Regions from separate parts of the Homo sapiens genome. Here region 1 is linked to region 2. Evidence: fine-mapped expression QTL. A gene starts in region 2. The other region holds a variant in brackets. All regions are shown on one strand. Distances are from middle to middle.

Evidence for each region.
Region 1: its variant is fine-mapped to the expression of COPS6 in whole blood (INTERVAL, PIP above 0.99).

What each region holds. Positions count from the first base shown.
Region 1 is chr7:100,114,383-100,126,130 of GRCh38, forward strand. It overlaps TAF6 (TATA-box binding protein associated factor 6), which reads right to left and starts at 4,976. Exons shown (of 15, transcript NM_139315.3): 1 at 4,822-4,976. CNPY4 (canopy FGF signaling regulator 4) reads left to right here and starts at 5,252. Exons shown (of 6, transcript NM_152755.2): 1 at 5,252-5,480; 2 at 7,877-8,003; 3 at 8,099-8,195; 4 at 8,402-8,524; 5 at 10,132-10,249; 6 at 10,343-11,126. The coding sequence starts at 5,363. The coding sequence ends at 10,506. RefSeq lists enhancers at 4,929-5,078, 5,289-5,508, 5,879-5,948, 11,155-11,748. The variant G/A (reference allele first, on the strand shown) is at 7,407.
Region 2 is chr7:100,084,634-100,092,633 of GRCh38, forward strand. It overlaps COPS6 (COP9 signalosome subunit 6), which reads left to right and starts at 4,336. Exons shown (of 10, transcript NM_006833.5): 1 at 4,336-4,433; 2 at 4,657-4,782; 3 at 4,982-5,113; 4 at 5,766-5,854; 5 at 5,959-6,021; 6 at 6,269-6,316; 7 at 6,405-6,519; 8 at 6,605-6,697; 9 at 6,787-6,887; 10 at 7,016-7,554. The coding sequence starts at 4,358. The coding sequence ends at 7,156. RefSeq lists enhancers at 2,456-3,149, 4,536-5,227, 4,734-5,933, 6,793-7,087 and a silencer at 4,196-4,385.

The DNA.
Region 1 (11,748 bases), 32 kb after region 2:
CCACGTGAGTCAGCCCTGAGGTGTAACAGAGAAAGATACAAATCTGGGCTGGGGCCAGGTTCAGTGGCTCACGCCTGTAATCCCACCAGCACTTTGGGAGGACGAGGCGGGCGGATCACTTGAGGTCAGGAATTCGAGACCAGCCTGGCCAACATGGAGAAACCCCATCTCTACTAAAAATACAAAAATTAGCAGGGCGTGGTAGTGCACACCTGTAATCCCAGCTACTAGGGAGACTAAGGCACGAGAATCACTTGAAACCAGAGGGCAGAGGTTGCAGTGAGCCGAGATCACGCCACTGCACTCCAGCCAGGGTGACTCCGTCTCAGGAAAAAAAAAAAAAAAATCTGGACTGGGCCTAGTGGCTCATGCCTGTAATTCCAACACTCTGGGAGCCCAAGGTAGGAGGATCGCTTGAGCCCAGCAGTTCACGACCAGCCTGGACAACACAGTGAGACCCCATCTGTACAAAAAATACAAAAATTAGCTGGGTATGCAGGCACAGGGCTGTTGTTCTAGCTACTCAGGAGGCAGAGGTGGGAAAACTGATAGAGCCCAGGAGCTCCTAGGCTCAAGCAATCCTCACACCTCAGCCTCCCAAGTAGCTGGGACTATAGGTGTGTACCACTACACACAGCCAATTTTTTGCAGGGGCAGGGGCAGAGACAGAGTCTCACTATGTTGTCCAGGCTGGTCTTGAACTGCTGGGCTCACGCAGTCCTCCTGCTTCGGCCTCCCAAAGTGTTGGAATTACAGGCCTGAGCCACCAGGCCCAGCCCAGATTTTTATCTTTTTCTGTTACACCTCAGGGCTTCAATCCCACCACTTTGAAGTTTTGGGCTCAAGCAATCCTCCAGCGTTGGCCTCTCAAAGTGTTGGAATTAAAGGCGTGAGCCGAAGTGTCTGGCCCAGGCTCAGCTTTCCTTATCTTCATAGCAATGCCATCCATCCAGACACTTGTTCTTTATCTGAGCCTTCACATCAAATCCACCAGGTAGGCCAGGTGCGGTGGCTCACGTCTGTAATTCCAGCAATTTGGGAGGCCAAGGTGGGTGGATCACTTCAGGTCAGGAGTTCGAGACCAGCCTGAGCAACATGGTAAAACCCTTTCTCTACTAAAAATACAAAAATTAGCTGGGCATGGTGGCGCGTGCCTGTAATCCCAGCTACTTGGGAGGCTGAGGCAGGAGAATCACTTGAGCCTCGGCAGTAGAGTTTGCAGTGAGTTGAGATTGCGCCATTGCACTCCAGCCTCAGTGACAGATGGACTCTGTCTCAAAAAAAAAAAAAAGGTAAAAAAATAAATCCGGTCGGGCGCGTTGGCTCACACCTGTAATCCCAGCACTTTGGGAGGCCGAGGCGGACGGATCACCAGGTCAAGAGATGGAGACCATCCTGGCCAACATGGTGAAATCCCATCTCTACTAAAAATACAAAAACTAGCTTGGCGTGGTGGCACGCACCTGTAGTCCCAGCTACTCGGGAGGCTGAGGCAAGAGAATCACTTGAACCTGGGAAGTGGAGGTTGCAGTGAGCCAAGATCGTGCCACTGGACTCCAGCCTGGCGACAGAGCGAGACTCTGTCTCAAAAATCAATCAATCCACCAGGTAGTCCAACCTGACTCCTCTGCTCCCACTGCTTGGCCCAGGTCACCATCATCTATCCACTGGGTAACTCCAAAAACCTCCTAACAATGTCAACCGGAGTCTACCCTTGCCTTTCTCTACATCTATTCCTAACGTTGCAGCCAAAATGCTTCTGTCAAACTGTAAAGCAGATTGTCATTTCTTTGCTCAAACCCTCATAATGGCTCTCCACTTGCCATAAAGTAAAACCTGAAATCCTTATAATGGGCAGGTGCAGTGGCTCAGCTCATGCCTGTAATCTGTGCACTTTGGGAGGGTGAGGTGGGAAGACTGCTTGGGCTTAGGAATTCCTGACCACCCTGGGCAACATAGCAAAACCCCATCTCAGGCCAGGCACAGTGGCTCACGCCTGTAATCCTAGCACTTTGGGAGACGAAGGTGGGCGGATCACTTGAGGGCAGGAGTTCAAGACCAGCCTGGCCAACATGGTGAAACCCTATCTCTACTAAAAATAAAAAAATTAGATGGGCATGGTGGCGGGCACCTGTAATCACAGCTACTCGGGAGGCTGAGGCAGAAGAATCACTCGAACCCGGGAGGCGGAGGTTGCAGTGAGCAAAGATCTGTGTCATTGCACTCCAGCCTGGGCAACAAAGCAAGACTTCTTCTCAAAAACAACAACAACAACAACAAAAAAAACAGACGAAATCCTTATAATGTCCTACAAAGCCCTTCAAAATTACCTTCTCCCCATTATATCTCTGAACGCCCTTCCTTCTTCCACTTTGATCCAGACACATACATTCCTTCTGGCTGCTCCTTAAACTTGCCAGGTATGTACTTGCTTAATAGCCTTTGCTGCATTCCCTCTGCCTGGAATGTTCTTCCCAAATATCTAATTGGCTGCCTACCCTGACCACCCTATTTAACTCTGCACTCTGCCCTCAGAGTGGGGGCAGCCCACTTTTTCTTTTCCATAGCATTTAACATCTTTTGGGCATGGCGCAGTGGCTCACGCCTGTAATCCCAACACTTTGGGAGGCCGAGGTGGGCAGATCACGAGGTCAAGAGATCGAGACCATCCTGGCCAACATGGTTAAACCCCATCTCTACTAAAAATACAAAAATTAGCTGGGCGTGGTGATGTGCACCTGTAGTCCCAGATACTCGGGAGGCTGAGGCAGGAGAATTGCTTGAACCCAGGAGGTGGAGGTTGCAGTGAGTAGAGGTTGTGCCACTGCACTCCAGCCTGGCAACAGAGTGAGACCCCGTCTCCGTCCACCATCTAGACAGGGCTCTTTTTTTTTTTTTTTTTTTTTGAGCTAGAGTTTCACTCTTGTTGTCCAGGCTGGAGAGCAATGGCGCGATCTTGGCTCACTGCAACCTCCGCCTCCCAGATTCAAGCAATTCTCCTGTCTCAGCCTCCTGCGTAGCTGGGATTACAGGCATGCGCCACCACACCTGGCTAATTTTTGTATTTTTAGTAGAGATGGGGTTTCACCATGTTGCTCAGGCTGGTCTTGAACTCCTGACCTCAGGTGTTCCACCCACCCTGGCCTCCCAAAGTGCTGGGATTACAGGCGTGAGCCACTGTGCCCGGCCGACAGAGCTCTTTATTATGTTCACTGATGTATTCCAGGAGCCCAGCCTGGGACATCATAAATATTTGTGAAGTAAATGAATTAGTTGTAAGGCTTAGAGATATTGGTGCTCAGTAAATACTTGGTATCACTATTATTAATAGGTCATAGGCCCAAGCTTTGAGCCTACACTGTAGTTAAAAGCAAACTGGGCCGGCCGTGGTGGCTCACGCCTGTAATCCCAGCACTTTGGGAGGCCGAGGCGGGCGGATCACTAGGTCAGGAGATTGAGACCATCCTGGCTAACAAGGTGAAACCTCGTCTCTACTAAAAAATAGAAAAAATTAGCCAGGCATGGTGGCAGGCACCTATAGTCCCTGCTACTCGGGAGGCTGCTGAGGCAGGAGAATGGCGTGAGCCCGGGAGGCGGAGCTTGCAGTGAGCCGAGATCGCACCACTGCACTCCAGCCTGGGCAACAGAGCCAGACTCTGTCTCAAAAAAAAAAAAAAAACAAAAAAAGCAAAGTGGAGCCAGGTGCAGTGGCTCACGCCTGTAATTTGGGAGGCCAAGGCGGGAAGATCACCTGAGGTTAGGAGTTCGAGACCACCCTGGCCAACATGGTGAAACCCTGTCTTTTTGTAAAAACACAAAAATTAACCAGACATGGTGGCGGGCGCCTGTAGTCCCAGCTATCTGGGAGGCTGAGGTGGGAGAACCGCTTGAACCAGGAAGCGGAGGTTGCAGTGAACCGAGATCGTGCCACTGCACTCCAGCCTGGGCGATAGAGAGAGACTCCATCTCAAAAAAAAAAAAAAAGCAAATTGGAGCCAAGAGAGGTAACTCACCCCAGTAATCCCAGCACTTTGGAAGGCAGAGGTGGGGGGATTGTTTGAGGCCAGGAGTTTGAGACAGCCTGGTCAACATAGTGAGACCCCCATTTCTGCAAAAATTAAAAAATTAGACGGACCTGGTGGTGTGAACCTGTCATCCCAGCTACTTAGGAGGCTGAGGCAGGAGGATCGCTTGAACTGAGGAGTTGGAGGCTGCAGTGAGCCAAGATGGTGCCACTGCACAACAGCCTGGGTAACAGACGGAAACCCTGTCTCAAAAAAAAAACAAAAAAAAATTAAAGTGGCACACTTGCAGTTGGACATTAGGAAGATTAACATATCAATACTGCTTAGGAGTAGTACAGGTAGGGTGGGGCCGTGCTGGAAGGATGGGAAGAGGGAGGCCGAAAAACAAATTGGTTCTTTTCAAACCATCCCTGATCTCCTCCCCGACTTTTATAAGTCTTATCTATAGGGAACACAACTATTCGAGACATACTCTGTGCCTGGCGCCGGGTTTACAAGAGGGGGTCGTGTCCCACTTCCCTGGCGAACTCCTACGAATCCTTCAATACCCGGCGGTACCCTCTGCCAGTAAAGGCTCATAAAACACGCTACAGTCACAGGATCTCCTCAGATCAGTGGAGGCGGCAGGAAGGCGTCCCAGGGAAGGGTTAACTTAAGCGAGATCCCAGCAGAGAAGCAGGTCGAAGATCCCCGGGCAGCGCGAAAGGAGGTTCAGAGAGCCCACCCCATCTCCTGCAACATCTCTCCAATGCAGGCACACACACGGGGTCCCCACGAGCACAGACACACAACCAACCGTCCTCTTTCCAGTCCCCACAAGGGACCTTCAAAGGGTCTCCTCCGGGGTACCACTCAGACCCGCCCCCGCCACCCGAGCGCGGGGAGCAGGAAAACTCTAGCGGCAGCCGAGACGCTGCTCACCCGGCGCTCGGCGCCATCTTGGCCCCGCCCCCTCGTGGGAGCAGGTCCTGGCAGAGCCTAAGAGCAAGTCACTGCCCCTTCCCCGTACCAGAATAAGTCCTCTAGGCTCGCAGAATGAAATTATATTTTAAAAGTTTGTTTCTACATCTATATATAAGGAGCACTCCCTCTTGGTGTAATTACTGCAATTTATTCCTTCACTACCCGGCTGCCAGGACCTTCAAGAGGCGCCACAAAACGGAGGCAGGGAAACCCGTAGCAACGAGGCCCCACCCTTGTTGGGCTGATCCTGCGCATGCGCCGACCTTCCTCGGCTGGATTTAAGGTTGCCGCTAGCCGCCTGGGAATTTAAGGGACCCACACTACCTTCCCGAAGTTGAAGGCAAGCGGTGATTGTTTGTAGACGGCGCTTTGTCATGGGACCTGTGCGGTTGGGAATATTGCTTTTCCTTTTTTTGGCCGTGCACGAGGCTTGGGCTGGGATGTTGAAGGAGGAGGACGATGACACAGAACGCTTGCCCAGCAAATGCGAAGGTATTTGAAGGGGGTAGCCCCTATAGGCATCGCCCGGCCACACCTCCTTCTTCTAGGCCGGACATCCTAGCCTGTATTGGGTGGGTCACCCGACCTCCTTGAAGGCTTGAGGGAGGTTCTGGTGGAGCTTGGCTGAATTTGGATGGGGTCAAGGAAGCGAACGTGTAGTGCCACCTCAAACTGCATCCAGAGAGAGCCTGCATTTTTTTGGCTGGCTTGGAACCCCCCGCCCGCCAATGGATTGTGGGAATTGTAGTTCAGGGACCATCGGCCCGGGACTGCCAACTTTTAGAGCATCTTCAGTGAGTGTTTACCTCATGTCACCAGACCTTAATCTGCAGAGGCTGCAGGAGCCGGGTGTGAGGCTCAGGCCTTGTGGACATCCGCTGCCCTACCCTAGCATAGACGCTCCCAAATTACAGGCCCCACACCCCGCTGAGGGGGTTTGAGGGTGAGTAATTCAGCCTTTGAAGCTCATAAACAAAAGGAAGCCACACAACTAGGAGAGTGTCCCCATCCGGTGAGACTTTGCAGACGGTGCGTACTATATGGATTTTTCAGCAAGCAGCGCCTTCCATAGCTGCACTAGCGTGGGGCCCAGTTGAGAAAGGGGGCTGGCCCTGATGCCCTAGTTTGCTGCCCTCCTGACTTTACGTTTCTTCCCTGGATTCCTTTTCTCTTCGCTTCACCCCCTCAACTGTATTCCAGTATCATGAAAGGCAGTCATGACAGTCTCATGACTTGGTCCTCATCTCTGTCTCCTTTCACCTCCGTGTGCCGCTCTTCTCCCCTGACCTGTCAATCTTTTTAAACAGACTTAATCACCTAATTGTATCAGTCCTTGCTTTAACACCTCTGCAGGCCTTCTATCAGAATACAGCCAACGGGCCTGGGCACAGTGGCTCACATCTGTAATCCCAGCACTTTGGAAGGCCAAGGTGGGAGGATCACTTGAGCCCATGAGTTCAGGCCCAGCTTCACCACAGCTTGTCATCCTTGGTTTATCTGTCCCAACTACACTGACAGAGACCTGTAGATAGAGATAATAGGTCTTATTGCTGTCTATATTGTTAGTATGCATACAGAAGGAGCTCAATAAATAACTGCAGGATAACAGTGAATACTTATACAGTGCTCACTATGTGCCAGCCTTTATATATGTTGATTTATTTAATCTTCATCACACTCCTATGAGGGACATACTATTATTATCCAATTGTATTAATTTTATATATATATATATATATATATATATTTTTTTTTTTTTTTTTTTTTTTTTTTTTTTTTTCTCTTTTCAGACAGCGTCTCATGCCGTTGCCCAGGCTGGAGTGCAGTGGTGCAATCTCGCTCACTGCAACCTCCGCCTCCCGGGTTCAAGCGATTCTCCTGCCTCAGCCTCCCAAGTAGCTGGGATTACAGGCGCCCGCCACCATGCCCAGCTAATTTTTGTATTTTTAGTAGAGACAAGGTTTCACTATGTTGGCCAGGATGGTCTCAATCTCTTGACCTCGTGATCCACCCACCTCAGCCTCCCAAAGTGTTGGGATTACAGGCATGAGTCACTGTGCTGGCCTATTTATTTTTAATGTATTTTACTTTTTTTAAGATGGAGTCTCCCTTTGTTGCCTGGGCTGGGGTGCAGTGGTGGGATCTCAGCTCACTGCAACCTCCACCTCCTGGGTTCGAGTGATTCTCCTGCCTCAGCTTCCCGAGTAGCTATTACAGGTGCGCACCACCACACCTGGCTAGTTTTTGTATTTTTAATAGAGATGGGGTTTCACCATGTGGGCCAGGCTGGTCTTGAACTCCTCAAGTGATCTGCCCGCCTCAGCCTCCCAAAGTGCTGGGATTACAGGTGTGAGCCACCACTCCTGGCCTATTATCCCATTATAAAGATGAAGAAACCGGCCGGGCGTGGTGGCTCAC[G/A]CCTGTAATCCCAGTACTTTGGGAGGCCAAGGCGGGCGGATCACAAGGTCAGCTGATCGAGACCATCCTGGCTAACACGGTGAAACCCTGTCTCTACTAAAAATACAAAAAATTAGCCGGGCGTGGTGGTGGGTGCCTGTAGTCCCAGCTACTCGGGAGACTGAGGCAGGAGAATGGCGTGAACCCAGGAGGCGGAGCTGGCAGTGAGCCGAGACTGCGCCACTGCACTACAGCCTGGGCGACAGAGCGAGAGTCCGTCTGAAAAAAAAAAAAAAAAAGATGAAGAAACCGAGGCACAGCAAGCAGGAAGATTGCCACACAGCTGCTAAATGGCTGAGCCAGGATTCCAACCCAGCCAGTCTGGCTCCATAGTCTGCACTTGTATGCTCTGCTGCCTCAGGTCATCTGCAGAATGAATGGCTGGTGTGTTTGTCTTTTACCTCCCCCCGGACGTTTCTCCTCCCCACCAGTGTGTAAGCTGCTGAGCACAGAGCTACAGGCGGAACTGAGTCGCACCGGTCGATCTCGAGAGGTGCTGGAGCTGGGGCAGGTGCTGGATACAGGCAAGAGGAAGAGACACGTGCCTTACAGCGTTTCGTGAGTCCTTCGTGCTCCTCCCCTTTCCAACCCCCAACGGAGCCCTGGGAGTTCCTACAGCATCCAGGGAATCTTTGTTTCCTCTCTTTCCACAGAGAGACAAGGCTGGAAGAGGCCTTAGAGAATTTATGTGAGCGGATCCTGGACTATAGTGTTCACGCTGAGCGCAAGGGCTCACTGAGATATGCCAAGGTCAGACCCTTCCCCAGGGCAGGACCCCACTTCTCAGATACAAAGATCTGTATCCCCTGAGGCCCTCCAGAGGTTATCTGCCCATCATCTCACCATCATGGAACTCACCCTTGAATCTCCAGTAGTTGACAAAACTGAAATGGCAGAAAGGGGAAGGGAGGGGTGGGGTGGTGAGCTGGGCTGATGCCAAATTCTTAATCTCTCAGGGTCAGAGTCAGACCATGGCAACACTGAAAGGCCTAGTGCAGAAGGGGGTGAAGGTGGATCTGGGGATCCCTCTGGAGCTTTGGGATGAGCCCAGCGTGGAGGTCACATACCTCAAGAAGCAGGTAGGATAAGACACTGCACCATCCAGGGAGGTGAGAAGGGAACCTGAGAGGGGAGCTAGGTTCTAGGGTTTGACTATAGGGGATGTCTACCCCTAAGCATGGGGAAGGGGCCAGAGTGAGGACTGTGCCATTGATTAAAGTGGGTCCAGGAGCGGTGGGGTGCGGTGGCTCACACCTGTAATCCCAGCAATTTGGGAGGCTGAGGCAGGTGGATCACCTGAGGTCATAAGTTCGAGACCAGCCTGGCCAACAAGGCAAAACCCCGTCTTTAATAAAAACACAAAAGTTAGCTGGGCGTGGTGGTGCACGCCTGTGATCCCAGCTACTTGGGAGGCTGAGGCAAGAGAATTGCTTGAATCCAGGAGGTGGAGGTTGCCATGAGCCAAGATCGCACCATTGCACTCCAGCCAGGGCGACAGAGCAAGACTCCATCTTAAAAAAAAAAACAAAAACAAAAACAAAAAAAAAGAAATCATAATGAGCCGGGTGGAGTGGCTCACAACTGTAATGCTAGCACTTAGTGAGTCTGAGGGAGAAGGACTGTTTGAGACCAGAGTTAGAGACCAGCTTGTGCAACATAAGAGACCCCCTTCTCTACAAATAATAATAATTTTAAAGAATTTTTTTTTTCAAGACGGAGTTTCACTCTTATTGCCCAGGCTGGAGTGCACCGGCACCATCTCGGCTCACCGCGACCTCCGCCTCCCGGGTTCAAGCCATTCTCCTGCTTCAGCCTCCCGAGTAGCTGGGATTACAGGCCCCTGCCACCACGCCCAGCTAATTTTTTGTAATTTTAGTAGAGACGGGGTTTCATCATGTTGGCCAGGCTGGTCGAACTCCTGACCTCAGGTGATCCACCCGCCTTGGCCTCCCAAAGTGCTGGGATTACAGGCATGAGCCATTGGGCCCTGCCTTAAGGAAAATTTTTAAAAAGTAATAATGGGCCAGGTGCGATGGCTCACGTATGTAATCCCAGCACTTTGGGAGGGCGAGACAGGCGGATCACGACATCAGGGGTTCAAGACCAGCCGGGCCATCATAGTGAAACCCTGTCTCTACTAAAAATACAAGAATTAGCCGGGCGTGGTGGTGTGGTGGCATGCATCTGTAGTCCCAGCTACTCAGGAAGCTGAGGCAGGAGAATCACTTGAACCCGGGAGGCGGAGGTTGCAGTGAGCTGAGATCCCACCACTGCAGTCCAGCCTGGGTGACAGAGCGAGACTCCATCTCAAAAAAAAAAAAAAGTAACAATGGTTGCTAATGATATCCACCATCACTTATTGAGCACCTACTGTGTCCCAGACTCTGGACCAGATACTTTGCATCTGTAGCCTCATTTTACCCTTAACAGCCTGATGTGGTAGGTGCAATTACCATACATATTTTACAGGCAAGGAGCTGAGACTCAAGAGTTTAATAATCTACTTGGCAGAATAGGTGCTGGTAAATGTTTGTTGAATGAATGAGGATTGCACATCTAGTAGGCCAAACTTAGCTTCCTGGCTACCTGCCTCTCCAAAATCAGTCAGGTTGAGCAGGGAGAGAAGACAGGCGGGATCCCAAATCCCTCCAGAGCAGATACTCTTCTGGCCCTTCTACTTGACCAGTGTGAGACCATGTTGGAGGAGTTTGAAGACATTGTGGGAGACTGGTACTTCCACCATCAGGAGCAGCCCCTACAAAATTTTCTCTGTGAAGGTCATGTGCTCCCAGCTGCTGAAACTGGTAAGCGTAAGGGTTGAACTCCTCTCCTGCCAAGCCATAGCCTCCCCTGCCTCCAGGACTAATATCTAAATTGTTTTCTGTCATCCGATCTAGCATGTCTACAGGAAACTTGGACTGGAAAGGAGATCACAGATGGGGAAGAGAAAACAGAAGGGGAGGAAGAGCAGGAGGAGGAGGAGGAAGAGGAGGAAGAGGAAGGGGGAGACAAGATGACCAAGACAGGAAGCCACCCCAAACTTGACCGAGAAGATCTTTGACCCTTGCCTTTGAGCCCCCAGGAGGGGAAGGGATCATGGAGAGCCCTCTAAAGCCTGCACTCTCCCTGCTCCACAGCTTTCAGGGTGTGTTTATGAGTGACTCCACCCAAGCTTGTAGCTGTTCTCTCCCATCTAACCTCAGGCAAGATCCTGGTGAAACAGCATGACATGGCTTCTGGGGTGGAGGGTGGGGGTGGAGGTCCTGCTCCTAGAGATGAACTCTATCCAGCCCCTTAATTGGCAGGTGTATGTGCTGACAGTACTGAAAGCTTTCCTCTTTAACTGATCCCACCCCCACCCAAAAGTCAGCAGTGGCACTGGAGCTGTGGGCTTTGGGGAAGTCACTTAGCTCCTTAAGGTCTGTTTTTAGACCCTTCCAAGGAAGAGGCCAGAACGGACATTCTCTGCGATCTATATACATTGCCTGTATCCAGGAGGCTACACACCAGCAAACCGTGAAGGAGAATGGGACACTGGGTCATGGCCTGGAGTTGCTGATAATTTAGGTGGGATAGATACTTGGTCTACTTAAGCTCAATGTAACCCAGAGCCCACCATATAGTTTTATAGGTGCTCAATTTTCTATATCGCTATTAAACTTTTTTCTTTTTTTCTAAAAACTAGCTGGGCCCAAAGTTTCAAACAACAGCCGGGCACACATAGCTAGCTGGTCGATGAGGCAGCACCCAGAATGGCCGCTGTCTTGTTAAGCTCAAGCTCCAGCCTGAGCAACATAGTGAAACCCCAATTCTACACACACACACACACACAAAGAAGACTGCAGGGCTGGTGGTGCAGCGCCTGTAGTCCCAGTTACTGCAGAGGTGGAGATGGGAGGATCACTTGAGTCCAAAAGGTCAAGACCAGCCTGGAGGCTGGGCGCAGTGACTCACACCTGTAATCCTAGCACTTTGGGAGGCCGAGGCAGGCGGATCACCTGAGTGTAGGAGTTCGAGAGCAGCCTGGCCAACATGGAGAAACCTCGTCTCTACCAAAAATACAAAAATTAGCCGGGCGGCTGGGCGCGGTGACTCACGCCTGTAATCCCAGCACTTTGGGAGGCCAAGGCGGGTGGATAACAAGATTAGGAGATCGAGACCATCCTGGCTAATACGGTGAAAGCCCGTCTCTACTAAAAATACAAAAAATTAGCCGGGTGTGGTGGCAGGCGCCTGCAGTCCCAGCTACTCGGGAGGCTGAGGCAGAAGAATGGCGGGAACCCGGGAGGCGGAGCTGGCAGTG
Region 2 (8,000 bases):
GGGATATTTTTTTGGTTTGTTTGTTTGTTTGTTTTGAGACAAACAAATATGGCGAAACTCTATCTCTACAAAAAATACAAAATTTAGCCTGGCGTGGTGGCACGCATTTGCAGTCCCAGCTACTTGGGAGGCTGAGATGGGACAGTCACTTGAGTTCAGGAGGTTGAGGCTGCACTGAATTGTGATTGTAACACTGCACTCCAGCCTGGGTGACAGAGCAAGACTCTGTCTCAAAAACAACAATAACAAACACAAAACAAAACAAAAACAAAAAAAAAGAAACGTTTAGCAAACTTAGTTCTAAAATGCGCACAATCAACTGATTCAATGTCAAAGTCATCCTTAAATTCCACAATAATCTCTTGTTTTATGAGCTGTATAATTATCTGAACAATGTTTCAAAAGCACCTGAAACAACAAGGCAAAGGAGTTCTTTAATGTGTGAGAGAGCAGTGCAAACGATCAACTTTACTAACCCTAGAATAATTCTCATCTTGTTTTTATTTTAGCCTTCTATCTAGCTGAGAAGCACTATGCTCCTTGGAAGCTGCCTAGCATTCTTTAAAGAGAGACATTTTTCTGGCCAGGCACGGTGGCTCACACCTGTAATCCTAGCACTTTAGGAGGCCGAGGCAGGTGGATCGGTTGAGGCCAGGAGTCTGAGAACTGACTAGCCAACATGCTGAAAACCCATCTCTACTAAAAATACAAAAATGAGCCAGGTGTGGTGGCGCAAGCCTGATATCTCAGCTACTTGGGAGGCTGAGGCACAAGAATCACTTGAACCCAGGAGGTGGAGGTTGCAGTGAGCCAACATCTCACCAAAGAGATACATTTTTCTGACCTGGTTTTTCCAAATAGAAACAAGGCATTAGGTACTTTTCTTTGACAACCCTCTCAGTTTGTCCAGACCTGGTTGGTTTATCACTGGGGACTAGAATAAAATAAATTCCTTTTTAACTTCCCTTTGGCGAGAAGACCCCTCTTCCTGCAGGATTTCTCAAGTCCGTTCCATTGAGGGTTGCTGGCCCCTTCAAGTTTCCTTCATCCAGGCTCCTAAACGGAGAGATTGCATAATTCCCCTGTAAATTACAACTATCACCATATGGGGCTGTTCAGGGTCATAACACAGTTCTTCACCTGCTTTCTAGGAGCTTACACTTTGGGTGGGGATACAGACACCTAGAGCCAGAGTATGTCTGGCTCTTTCTAGGTGTCTGTACCCCTCTTTGTAGGGGTGGCAGGAGGAGCAGTGTGTGCAACTTGCTTAGGTTTAGGGGTAAGGAGGGGGTGGAGCAGCCTAGGCTAGCCAGATGTGAATTTTGGGTTTTTTTATGAGACAGAGTCTTGCTTTGTCAACCAGGCTGGAGTGTGGTGGTGTGATCTCGGCTCGCTGCAACCTCCGCCTCCCGGGTTCAAGTGATTCTCCTCCCTCAGCCTCTCGAGTAGCTGGGATTACAGGCATGCACCACCACGCCTGGCTAATTTTTGTATTTTTAGTAGAGATGGGGTTTCACCATCTCTACTGGTCGAGACCAGGCTGGTCTTGAACTCCTGACTTCAGGTGATTCACCCACCTCGGCCTCCCAAAGTGCTGAGATTACAAGCATAAGCCACTGTGCCTGGCCAGGAACTCAGTATTTAAGGGAAGAAAGCATGCAAGAGGAAAATAAGGAAGAAGGAGAGGCAGTGAGGCAAATGTTTTTTGTTTTGTTTTGTTTTGTTTTTCTTAAGACAGTGTCTCGCTCTGTCAGCAGGCTGGAGTGCAGTGGCGCAATCTCGGCTCACTGCAACCGCTGCCTCCCAGGTTCAAGCGATTCTTGTGCCTCAGCCTCCCAAGTAGCTGGTACTACAGGTGCGTGTCACCATGCCCAGCTAATATTTTGTATTTTTAGTAGAGACGGGGTTTCACAGTGTTAGCCAGGATAGTCTCAATCTCTTGACCTTGTGATCTGCCTGCCTCGGCCTCCCAAAGTGCTGGGATTACAGGCGTGAGCCACTGCACCCAGTCCAGCAAATGGTTATTTTATTTTATTTTTTGAAATAGAGTCTCAATCTGTTGCCCAGGCTGGAGTCCAGTGGGTCCATCTCGGCTCACTGCAATCTCCACCTCCTAGGCTCAAGTGATTCTCCTGCCTCAGCCTCCCAAGTAGCTGAGATTACAGGTGGGCACCACCACACCCAGCTAATTTTTGTATTTTTAGTAAAGATGGGGTTTTGCCATGTTGGCCAGGCTGGTCTTGAACTCCTGGCCTCAAGTGATCCACTCGCTTCCCAAAGTGCTGCGATTACAGGCATGAGCCACTGCACACCCTGCTGCACATTGTTACTTTTTTGTGAGTTTCTCATTAGTGTTCAGTAAATCTACATTTTATGTAAGATACAATAAACATTTGAAAAGAGGGAGTGGAGGAAAAAGTCAGTTATGCATCTGTCTCAGGATAGGTGGAGGGATGATTCCTGGTCTCTTCCTTGTTCTATAATTGGGAAGATAAGCTTGTAATCAACATTGTCAGTATGAGATTTCACAGAACTCGGATTAGGGCTGGTTTATAGGGGGAATGTTTATGCTGAAAGATTCAGAGGCTAATGAGGAATTTCCTGGCAAGCAATTTGTGAGGAAGACCATCTGGGGAGGTATATGCCTTTTGCCATTGTAGGAGCCTGGCTTATGTATGAGGCTATGACACAGGGTTGTGGAATTACAGCTATCTGGGAACAAAAAGGAAGGGAGTTTTGACTCACTTCCCAAGCATAAATTTCCTCGGCATGCCTCTACCATACCCAGCGAATTTTGTTTCCATGTTTTGTTGAAACAAGGTGTCACCATGTTGCCAAGGCTGGTCTCAAACTCCTGGGTTCAAGTGATCCTCCAACCTTGGCCTCCCAAAGTGCTAGGATTACAGGCGTGAGTCACCATGCCTGGCCTTGTGGAGTTATCTTCTTTCTTTCTTTCTTTCTTTCTTTTTTTTTTTTTTTTGAGATGGAGTCTCACTTTGTCTTGCCCGGGCTGGAGTGCAGTGGCGCGATCGCAGCTCACTGCAGCTTCCACCTCCCGGGTTCAAGCAATTCTCCTGCCTCAGGCTCCTGAGTAGCTGGGATTACAGGCGCCTGCCACCACGCCTGGCTAATTTTTGTATTTTTAGTAGAGATGGGGTTTCACCATGTTGGCTAGGCTCGTCTCAAACTGCTGACCTCAAGTGATTGTCTGGCCTCGGTCTCCCAAAATGCTGGTATTACAGGTGTGAGCCACCATGCCTGGCCTTGTGGGGTTATTTTCGAAAGTCCTTGAGATAATTCCTATCTCAGACATGCAAGCATGAGACCTTCTCCTTGGTGTTCTCATGGCTCCAATTTGTTTGGACCTGACAATGTGATTTTGTCCTGGTATCTGCAACTTTCACAAGATGGAGCAACTAACTCAACACCAGATTCCACCCCTAATTATTCCTTCATTCACTCAAAAAGTATCTAGGCTCCAATGTGTCAGGCACCGTGTTGGTCACAGGGGATACCATGATGAACAAGAGAAGGAACCACAGGCTTTTGAATGGGAAACTAAAGCATGTGAAAAACACACGGAGAGCTGGGTGCGGTGGCTCATGCCTGTAATCCCAGTGCTTTGGGAGGCTGAGGATGGAGGATCTCTTCTGCCCGGGAGTTGGAGACCAGCCTGGACAACCTAGTGAGACCCCCGTCTCTATCAAAATAAAAACAAATAATAAAATTAGCTGGGTGCGGTGGGGTGCGCCTGTAGTCCCAGCTACTCGGGAGGCTGAACTGGGAGGATCACTTGAGCCCAGGAGTTTGAGGGTGCAGTGAGCTGACATCAGGCCACTGCACTCCAGCCTGGGCGACAGAGCGAGACCCTGTCTCAAACAAAACAAAACAAACCACCACCACCACCAGACATGAGGGCCAGTGCAGCTGAAGCCTGAAGATCAAGGGCTAGAAGAGGCCAGGCCGGGGCCAGATCAGGCAGGGCCTTGCAGGTTGTGGTTAGTTGTTTGGATTTTATTGTGAGGGAAATAACACGACATGTCATTCCTTCTGCAACAGCCTTAAGAACTAGGCGTTCTTATCCCAATTTCACAGACGAGGACGATCAAGTCGTTAATTTGTCAAAGGTCACCCGCAGGCGACAGGCGGGGACAGGGTCTGGGAAAACCCGCTAGGCACCGAGGCCCAGAGGGCGTCGGGCGTCCCCGCACCGAGTGCCGCCCGCCGCGACCCGGGAACTGCCTGCTCCCCGGACGCCAGGCCCGCCGCACGCCGCGGGGACACCGAACATGCGCCGCTCGCCTTACGGAAGCCGGGAAGGAAGGGGGCGGGGCCGAGGCTGGCGGGCGCGGGGAAAATGGCGGCGGCGGCGGCGGCGGCTGCAGCTACGAACGGGACCGGAGGAAGCAGCGGGATGGAGGTGGATGCAGCAGGTAACGGGCCGTGCGGGGGTGGCTTCCGGAGACCTCCTTCAGGGGTTCGTTGAGGCCTCCCTGTGCTCCCGGGAGAAGGGAGGAGGGCGGAGCAGCAACATCTTTCCCTGGGATAAGTTACGGGAGGAAAGTGTGGCCCGGGCTCCGCCGTCCCCCACTGCCATCTCCAGGGAAGAACGTGGGGCCCGGACTCTCACCCTCTCTCCTTTCCCTCCACCCTTAGTAGTCCCCAGCGTGATGGCCTGCGGAGTGACTGGGAGTGTTTCCGTCGCTCTCCATCCCCTTGTCATTCTCAACATCTCAGACCACTGGATCCGCATGCGCTCCCAGGAGGGGCGGCCTGTGCAGGGTGAGTGTTGGGCATAGACTCCAGTCTCTTCTCCTTGCTCACCTCCCCCAGGCAGTGGTCTTTTCCCCTTCCTCTACTGGAGCCAATTCCCCCTCCCCCAAATCATCGTTTCCCCAATACATGGTTCCCACTGATCTCAGACCCTCAGGTCATAGAAGTTTCTTTACCCTCACCTTTTCCATGTCATTCTCTTTCCCAGTGATTGGGGCTCTGATTGGCAAGCAGGAGGGCCGAAATATCGAGGTGATGAACTCCTTTGAGCTGCTGTCCCACACCGTGGAAGAGAAGATTATCATTGACAAGGAATATTATTACACCAAGGAGGAGCAGTGTGAGAGTGGAATAGATGTGGGGAAGAGGAGTGGGAGTTAAAAAAAAAATGTACAGGGTGGGGAAGATGGAGAGGGTTGGAAAGAAACAGGAGAGGAGACCAAGAACAGGGGAGAAAAAGTGAAGAGTAGCTGGAGAGATCTCAGAAAAAGAAAACGTTCAGAGTTCTTTCTCAAAAGAAAGCAAAGGATGAGAGGAGACAGGATAGAAGGGAGTAGTTATTCTAAACTGAGCCAGGATTTGAGGAGGGAGGAGAGAAGCTGGTGAAAATACACCAGGAGCTTCACATTGAGGAAGGATGGTTTAAAGAATTACTATGTCAGGCCGGGCTCAGTGACTCATGCCTCTAATCCCAGCACTTTGGGAGGCCGAGGTGGGTGGATCATGAGGTCAGGAGTTCAAGACCAGCCTGGCAAACATAGTGAAACCCCACCTCTACTAAAAATACAAAAATTAGTCTGGCATGGTGGTGCGTGCCTGTAGTCCCAGCTACGCGGGATGCTGAGGCAGGAGAATTGCTTGAACCTGGGAGGCGGAGGTTGTGGTGAGCTGAGATCATGCCACTGCACTCCAGCCTGGGCAACAGAGCGAGATTCCGTCTCAGAAAAAAAAAAAAAAAGAATTACTATATGTTCTGGCCCCTTCCCCTCTAGTTAAACAGGTGTTCAAGGAGCTGGAGTTTCTGGGTTGGTATACCACAGGGGGGCCACCTGACCCCTCGGACATCCACGTCCATAAGCAGGTATGCATGCTCACACCTGTGCATGCTGGGGCAGAGAATGGAGAATGAGGGGAAGGAGAAAGGTAGGGGGCACTGACTTCCTGTGCATTGTCCCTCTCTTCCAGGTGTGTGAGATCATCGAGAGCCCCCTCTTTCTGAAGTTGAACCCTATGACCAAGCACACAGATGTGAGTAATACTCCATGCCTACTCTGTCATGATTGTCGCTATACCTTTTACTGTGTGACACTCCTCTATTGGGGAATGCCAGATGCCACTTACCAGCTGTGACTCTGGCTTAGTCATTTAATCTCCAAACTGTGAAAGGAGGTAATCCCTACTTCATTGGTTTCTTGGGAAGATGAGAGGAAATGTGTAAAAGCAGCTAGCCCAAATGTTGGCATATAGTGTTCAGGTTTCTCCGTCTCCTTCACAGCTTCCTGTCAGCGTTTTTGAGTCTGTCATTGATATAATCAATGGAGAGGTAATACCCTACCCTTCAACCCTCAGATCCTGCTCTTGGCCTCTTTCCTGCTTTTGATTCTCCCTTTGTGGGTTACCTTGCCCTGTAGGCCACAATGCTGTTTGCTGAGCTGACCTACACTCTGGCCACAGAGGAAGCGGAACGCATTGGTGTAGACCACGTAGCCCGAATGACAGCAACAGGCAGTGGAGAGAACTCCACTGGTAATGGAGGGGATTCCTTGGAAGTGGGGTTGGAAGGTGTGGCCACATCCCGTCTCAACCTCCTCCTGTCCTCATCCCCTTGCAGTGGCTGAACACCTGATAGCACAGCACAGCGCCATCAAGATGCTGCACAGCCGCGTCAAGCTCATCTTGGAGTACGTCAAGGCCTCTGAAGCGGGTAGGACAGGGGCTTCCCTGGCATTCTTCCTCTCCCTCCTGGGGAAGTGACAGCATCCAAACTAATGTAGTCTCTTTTTGTGCCTTTAGGAGAGGTCCCCTTTAATCATGAGATCCTGCGGGAGGCCTATGCTCTGTGTCACTGTCTCCCGGTGCTCAGCACAGACAAGTTCAAGACAGATTTTTATGATGTGAGTGTAAAACCCGGATGGGGAGGCGGGGCTTATGCTGTCACTTTCACGTGCAGGACTGGGGACTGTTGTTCCCCGGGCATGCCACGAGGGATCCCGAGGAACTGGTCCTTTCTGTTCCCTCCCAGCAATGCAACGACGTGGGGCTCATGGCCTACCTCGGCACCATCACCAAAACGTGCAACACCATGAACCAGTTTGTGAACAAGTTCAATGTCCTCTACGACCGACAAGGCATCGGCAGGAGAATGCGCGGGCTCTTTTTCTGATGAGGGTACTTGAAGGGCTGATGGACAGGGGTCAGGCAACTATCCCAAAGGGGAGGGCACTACACTTCCTTGAGAGAAACCGCTGTCATTAATAAAAGGGGAGCAGCCCCTGAGCACCCCTGCTGGTGGCTCTGTCCTCTGTTAGGCACCACACTGGTTGGTCAACTTGGATGTTCATCGAGGCTCATTCTGGCCTTGCTCAGAAGCCCTTCTGATGCTCTTCAGTGAGGGAGGCACTACCATTTGAAGTGACCCCATGTCAGTCACATGGACTGGTCTTTAGCAAAGTCCAAGGCTGCCTGCTTCCACCTAAGTGGTCTCTGTTCTACACTTTAATGTCACCCTCTACATCATCTTACCTAGCCCACCCAACCTTATAAACATGATAATTGACTACTTTCCTGAGCTAAATTAACTTGTTTTTCACATACGCAAAAAAGAAGGGATAGTAAGCAGATTTTTATTAGAAAGAAGTCCAAGCCTTGATCCTGTGGGCACTGTGAATTACCAGGAGGGAGAGTTTCTCAATGACCGTTTACTACATATTTTGGAGAGGCAGCTAGGAAGTGGTCTAAAGGTTGGGATTGCTGTATGTGATCACTTGTGCTGATTTTCATCACCCGCTAACCAGAGCTTTAGAGTGGGAGTTGGGAACTAAGTAATGACCTGTCTGCTAGAAAAGGGGAAAAACCAAGAGACCCTGCATTTCATACTGGCGCCATATCCCCAGAGCCTGACTTGCACACAGGCAGTATAAGACCAAATAAGGGAGTCGGGGGGCTCAAAAAGTGGAGCCCCATCTTAAGTATCTCCAAACAGCAGGGACCGCTTAGTCCTTGCCGCA